2 linked regions of the Homo sapiens genome follow. The protein of the gene in region 2 purifies or fractionates together with the protein of the main gene of each other region. This does not show direct contact. Each region holds a gene or a part of one and is shown on either strand. Other genes may lie near its edges.

The links. The genes of interacting proteins can lie anywhere in the genome.
Region 1: the proteins of SLC6A17 (region 2) and EI24 purify together in Homo sapiens (affinity purification with mass spectrometry; one large-scale study listed by BioGRID and IntAct). This does not show direct contact.

Annotation. Positions count from the first base shown.
Region 1 is NC_000011.10:125,582,176-125,585,190, reverse strand, and holds the end of EI24 (etoposide-induced protein 2.4 homolog), read right to left. Parts: intron 2,846-3,015; coding exon 2,771-2,845; intron 1,671-2,770; coding exon 1,508-1,670; 3' UTR 507-1,507; downstream 1-506. UniProt on the Homo sapiens protein: Acts as a negative growth regulator via p53-mediated apoptosis pathway. Regulates formation of degradative autolysosomes during autophagy.
Region 2 is NC_000001.11:110,156,833-110,160,493, forward strand, and holds part of SLC6A17 (sodium-dependent neutral amino acid transporter SLC6A17), read left to right. Parts: intron 1-3,661. UniProt on the Homo sapiens protein: Synaptic vesicle transporter with apparent selectivity for neutral amino acids.

The DNA.
Region 1 (3,015 bases), on a different chromosome or scaffold from region 2:
TGAGCCACCATGCCCGGCCTAACCTATTTTATAGTTAATAGAGACGGGGTTTTACTATGTTGCCCAGACTGGTCTCGCACTCCTGGACTCAAGTGATCCTCCTGCCTTGGCCCCTGCCAAAGTGCTGGAATCCCAGCCATCAGTTACCATGCCTGGCCCCAGCAACAATTTTTAATTCCATATTTTATCTTGCACATAGTAAAGGTCTCTGTTAACCAGATGTTTAACGGCTTCCCTCGATTAATACTCAATACACCAATATCTAGGAGGGTCTTTCTCCCTTCATGAATATACAGTAGCGATATACATATAGACTTTAGAAAAAGTAATAATCTGACTCTTCTACCAAATATAAATGTGATTATAATCATATAATCCAGGCTTTCTCAGGGAACATTTTTCAGGGCTAATTTCTCAAAACTGTAACTAAATTATCCAAGACAAAGTCTTATATTCCATGAATACATTTCTCGAAATCAAGATTTGCAAATTCAACCATTAGACACTTTGTGGGAAACCAGCTCATGTTTAATTGTGACATTTTAAAATTGTACAGGTATTTTGACATCTGCCCCCCACATTTAGTCTCTCAAAATGACAGGAAAACAACCAATCACAGGTTTAATACATTGACCCCTTCAGTTCCTATATGCAGCACCCAATATTCCTTTGAAATATGAAATAGACCTGGCAGTGGCCAACAGTAAATTTCTGCCCGCTGCCTCCCACCACCAACGGAGTTGAAAAGTTCAGGTTTAGTGTTGTTGTAGTGGCACTTGTCCAGAATTGGTACCTCCCCATAGTTGGGGGACTTTAAATGTACCAATGAAAATAGCTTTTTCCCCTTCAAGGGGAAGAAAGAAAATCACTCCTCAAAACCCAGCAGATCTGGCTGTGAGGTCTTTCCTCCTATCTCATCTCTTCAGGCTTTTTTTTTTTTTTTTTTTTTTTTTTTTTTTTTGCAGTGGAGCAAGAGAGACCAAAACCTAACCTGAGTTACAAGAAACAAGACAGTAATGGCTATAAAGGGAGTGACCAGGAGCAACTGGGACACTCCTTTACCTCCCATATCCAATGTATGTGTTTCACAGAAAAACAACAAAATTAACAAATTCACAAAATACAACAGCTAGAATTACAAAATCCATTCATCCAAGGGTGGTAGAAGGCAGGATGGAAAGGTGGAAGGGTAAATGGCACAGGGAGAAAAACAAAGTGTTCCAATCAGTCCAGGCACAGGGACTGGCAAATGCTAGAAAATAGCTGCAGAAAAACCTGTGGTCCTTTCAGACTCACGGTGATGTTAAAAATCCACACACTGGTGTCAGGGAACATTCTGCCTTACGTGCACCAGAGACAAAAATTTCAATTCCTCAGAGAGAAGGGAATACGCAGAGGGCCCTTGGCAGAGCGGGTCCTGCCTTCCCTGGCAGGCGGGAGGTGAACAGGGAAAAGAGCTGCCACAGCTTCTTCCAATCCCGCCCATCCCCTTTGGATGGCAGGCAACTCAGTGACCTGCAGTAGCCTTCAGTTTGGCAGGCGACGGATGCGGTGAAGGGAACTTCTCTGCAGAAGTAGAGCTGCTCAGGGCCGACTGCAGGTAGACTGTCTTGTGGAAGAGTCTGTTGCTTAAGAAGACCACCAAGGAGAAGAGGCGCAACTGGAAGAGACTAAAAGGCAAGAAACCCAACTTGTTAGCTCCCCAGTTACTCAAAATTATTTCCGTTGTTTGACAACTTGACATTAAATTTAAAACTACACAGGGAAAGACAAGACAAATGAAACTTGATCAAGGAAATACAGATATTAGATACATGGATGGAACAGGCAACTAAAGAATACATTGGAGCCGGGCGTGGTGCCTCATACCTGTAATCCCAGCACTTTGGGAGGCTGAAGCAGGTGGATCACTTGAGAAAAAAATTAGCAGGGCATGGTAGCATGCGCCTGCAATCCCAGCTACCCAGGAGGCTGAGGCAGGAGAATCGCTTGAACCTGGTAGGCGGAGGTTGCAGTGAGCCGAGATCACGCCACTGCACTCCAGCTTGGGTGACAGAGCGAGACTCCGTCTCAAAAAAAAAAAGAATGCATTGGGCCCTGCTGCTGCCATGAATGTAATGCAGTCACCAGCGTTGAAGTATTGTGGCTCTTACAGGAAATAGTTATATTTTAGATTAACTTTGATTTGAGAAGTACTTTTCTATGGCTGACTTCGGGGTACAGACTTCAAGCTATGTCTGAAGGTATCATATGCTATCTGTGGTTGCAGGAAGAAGAGTTTCAAAAGAAAGTCAAATATTCCTCTTAAGATAAACAGTGAGCTGTGCTGTATAGCAAGAGCATACAAAAACCCAAAGCAGACCTAAGTCTCTAATACAAGTATCCACACTGACTTAACCAAAATTGATCAAAGATGAATTGAGCTTTTCTTTGAAGTAATAAAACTTTTAGAATGCTATTATTATTGCTAAAAACTCATTTTAAAGTATATTTTACTACTGTTATCAATAAACTCATGTGGCCAGGTCATACAGCCCTCTACTTGAATATGTATAATGGGATCGGTTTTGGAAATATATATATACTCATGTGCATATATGCATGGAGAAAAGTTTGGGTTATATCCCAGAAGTGTTTCTCTCTCATTAAACCTTATATTAAGATTTTCCTACAGTAAGAATTTTTTTTTTTAAAAAGCCTCACTGACATAACTGGTGTTACAGCCCCAACCCTTTACACAGCAAAAATTTCATCACTGGCTAATACTTACTATGCTTTGCCAGGGGTCTTTGCTTCATTGGCGCTGATAATGAATAAAGGAAAGAGGATAGAGAAAAGGCAGCCACTGTTTAAAAAAAAAAAAAAGAAATAATTAGTCACCTTCATAACAGACATGACTTTGAAGAAGATATTAGAAGCTCCAAGTTCTTTTGCTTCCAGTGTAAACATTATGGCTTGATGAAACCTCAATATTTCAAACATTTTTTTTTTTGAGATGGAGTCGCGTTCTTGTCG
Region 2 (3,661 bases):
TTCCTTCAAGAGCTCTTCAGCAGTCCGTTTGGTAACTCAGGTAATTGAACACCCTTGGTTCCCTCTGTCTCTTTCTAAGACAACAGAAAATAGTGGTTTTAAGAAAATCCAGGTCAGATTATTTTGGCAGATGCTGTGAGGACTCATCTGTCCCCATGGTGGTCCCCCCATGAATGAGGAAAGAAGGGAATGAGGCTTTCACTAGTTATTCCTGGACTTTTATTTGCACATCTGGTTTGTAAAATTTTTCTTTTTCCAAATTGGTATACTCTCACAGGTCCTTTATCTGTCTGAGACCTGGTGTGCCCTTCAGCACCTCACGTCCTCATTTCCCTTTCTCTTCAAATCTCAAGTCTCATCCAACAGCCTGATCCATATCACCATCATCGCTTACCTACCCTCCCTGTTTCTTCACTTGTCCTACCAGCAGCCATTGATCCCTATAAAAACAGTCAGGTCAGGCCAGGTGTGGTGGCTGACACCTGTAATCCCAGCATTTTGGGAGGCCGAGGGAGGTAAATCACGAGGTCAGGAGATCCAGACCATCCTTGCCAACATGGTGAAACCCTGTCTCTACTAAAAATACAAAAATTAGCCGGGTGTGCTGGCATGCGCCTGTAATCCCAGCTACTCAGGAGGCTGAGGCAGGAGAATCTCTTGAACCCGGGAGGTGGAGGTTGCAGTGAGCCGAGATTGCGCCACTGCACTCCAGCCTGGGCGACAAAGCAAGACTCCATCTCAAAAAAATAAATAAATAAAAATAAAATAAAATAAAAATAAAAATAGTCAGGTCACATTACTCCTCTGCTTGAAAACCTCCAACAGCTTCCCATTAGCCTTGAAAGAAAACCCCAACTCCTTTCCATGCTCCTTGAGTCCTGCCTGTTCTGGACACTCACTGTCTTCCTAGCCCAGCACCTCCCACTCTTCCATTGTTCAGGGTGCTCTAGGCACATGGCCGTCTGTCTGTTCCTTGTACTCACCAGGCATGCAGGTCCTGCCTCAGGACATTTGCACTTTCTGTTCCCTCTGCTCTGAATGCTTTCCCAGGACATCCACATGGCCCACTCTCTCACTCCGTTGAAGTCTTTATGTCACCTTATCGGAGCATACGTCCTTACCCCCATCTCTGTTGTAGCATCCCTGCTGTGCTCCATCCCCTCATACTCTATATTGTATGTGTTTATTTGATATATATACTATCAGATATAGTGTATGTTTATATGTACACTATAAATTATATATTTGTCTGATTTCTATTTGTCCCTCTGCACTAGAAATAAATCCAATGGAGCAGGGACATTATTTGCTCTGTTCTCTGTTGTACTAGAACAGGGCCTAGAACATAATGTTCAGCAAATATTTGTTGAAAGAAGTAAAGGAAAAGAAGGAGGGAAAGAGATTTAAAAATATTTTAAATGCCATATTTTAAAATCCCATATTTCAGCAGTACCTCTAGTTCATAGAAGTCGCTGGGCTCTATTCTCCTTCCAGGCCAAAAGGGGAGTAGAAGTCGGAGAACTGAGCCCCAGTATCCCCTGTCAGCCCACTGTGTCCTTGGGCTTGCACGTGCATGTCCCACCCAGCTCCAGGGCGTTGTGGGATGTGGGTGAGTATGCCTTGATTCCTGGCTAAGCCCATTTCCCACATGTTCTCACATGAAGGTGGTAGCTGGCACTGGTTGATGGCATGCCCCTGAGGGCCTGGCCTGAGTTGAGCATAACTCTTTTGTTACCTCATTTTATACTCATGACAACCCTACGAGGTGTAGCATCCTTCATCCCTATCTTTTCAGGTCTAGAAGGTAAAACCAAGAGGGGTTATGTACTTTCCCAAAGACCAACATCTCATAAATGGCAGAGCAGGACTTTAGGTTTTCCTGGCTCTAAAACCCATGATAGCATTGAGGTTGAGAGTCAGGCTCCAGGGTCAGTCTGTCAGTGCAGATCCAGGGGCTTTGGATGACTTGCCTTATTTCATCAATTCCAAAATGTGTATTTTTGCACATTGCCACATCTTAAAATCAGGACATGACATGCAATCAATAGCTGTTTCAAAATGGCTGTGGGTCTATGGCAGCTCACCCTAGTTGGGTGGGAAACTTTGATGAACCCTTTCTGGTAAGTTCAAGAAAGTGCCAGCATCAAAGGATCCTAGATTCAATGAAATATAGGTAATTATCCCTCTCAGCTTCCATGTCTTCATTTGTAAAATGGGAGTAACAGTGGTATCTACCTGATATAATTACTGGCGGGATTAAAGGAGCTAATATCTGTTTGGTGCTCAGCATGGTGGTTGCCACAGAGATGGGACTCAAGAATTATGGCCTATGTGCTGTGTTGTCATTGTTATTATTACTACACCCCACTCTGCCTTCAGAAGTTCCCCCAGTGGATCCCTCAGCACCTGAATTCTAGTAAAGAGAGAATGCATGGGTTGGGGGGGTGCTTTCTGGGGCTGCCCTTGTTTACATGCACACAGAGCATGCGTTCTCCCACGTGAGATGGTAAAATGGAACCACAAGATCTGTTTGCACTGGCCACACCCACATTTTTCAGTGCCAGTTCCTCCCCCTCTGGACCATCTGCCCCCTTTCCTGCTTCCCTTCCTTCTTGACAAAGAAAACAAGATATTGACTCAAGAGAACAGACTCAGCAAATGCAACAGGAAAGTAAGAAAGGGCTGCAGAAGTTGCCACTGGCTCCTCAGCTGGATTTCTTGTTTGGAATGGTCCCACAAGTCCCAAGCCATGCTGTGTGTCAGGACTGTGCCCACCCAAAGATGATTTCCCTGAGGTGAGGATGGATTCTGTCTACAAAGTAGGGAAGGTACAGCACAAATACTGGCTCTTTTGAAAGTGGCCAAAAGTCACAAAGGGATGGCCAGGCTTCTTAGTGTATCCTGGCTTTCAAACTGTCACTTGGGGCATCCTTGGGGCATGATATGGTCTTGGCATCAGAATATTGCATCAGAAAATGGAAAAAACTAGAAGTTGGAAAAACACATCGGACTCCAGGAACTTTGGGGTGTTCAAAAATGGATCAATTCATTTATGCACTCATTCAATTCCATCATATCATATTTATCATGCTCATATTATGATAAGATACCAGGATTTGGCCTTGCAGAAGCAAAGATGGTGTCAATTGAGGTATGAAATGGAAGACCAAAACACAAACCCGACAAATCTGTGAAATGGAATAAAAAGAAATCACCACTCTGTTCATTTGATTTTTCAATAAGCTTTTCTTTCTCTTTCTCCTTCCATCCATGTGGTAACCAGATGCAGCTGGTAGGTAAGCAGGCAAGCACTGCTCCTCATTTTACAGATGAATAAGAAACAAACTGGCTTCCAAGTCTTGGGGCTCTCCCCATGTGTGCTGCAGGGCTGCACTGGATTAGAGTCCCCCTGGCTGGGACATGCAGACTTCCGGTAGGTTCAAATGTCTCTCTAGTCACTGCTGTTAGTGTTTTACCCCGCCTCTTTGTTTCAAATGTGAGGCAGTAGTAAGATTTCAACATGGCAAGCAGGTTGTTCTCAGAGGGTTGGAAGGCAGGGACCCTAGAACACCTGTAAATACCATGTTCTGCCCACAGAAATGTGTAGGATAATCTGTGTGTGCGAAGCACTGGTTGGGTAGGAAGCAGTGAAGGGTGGGCA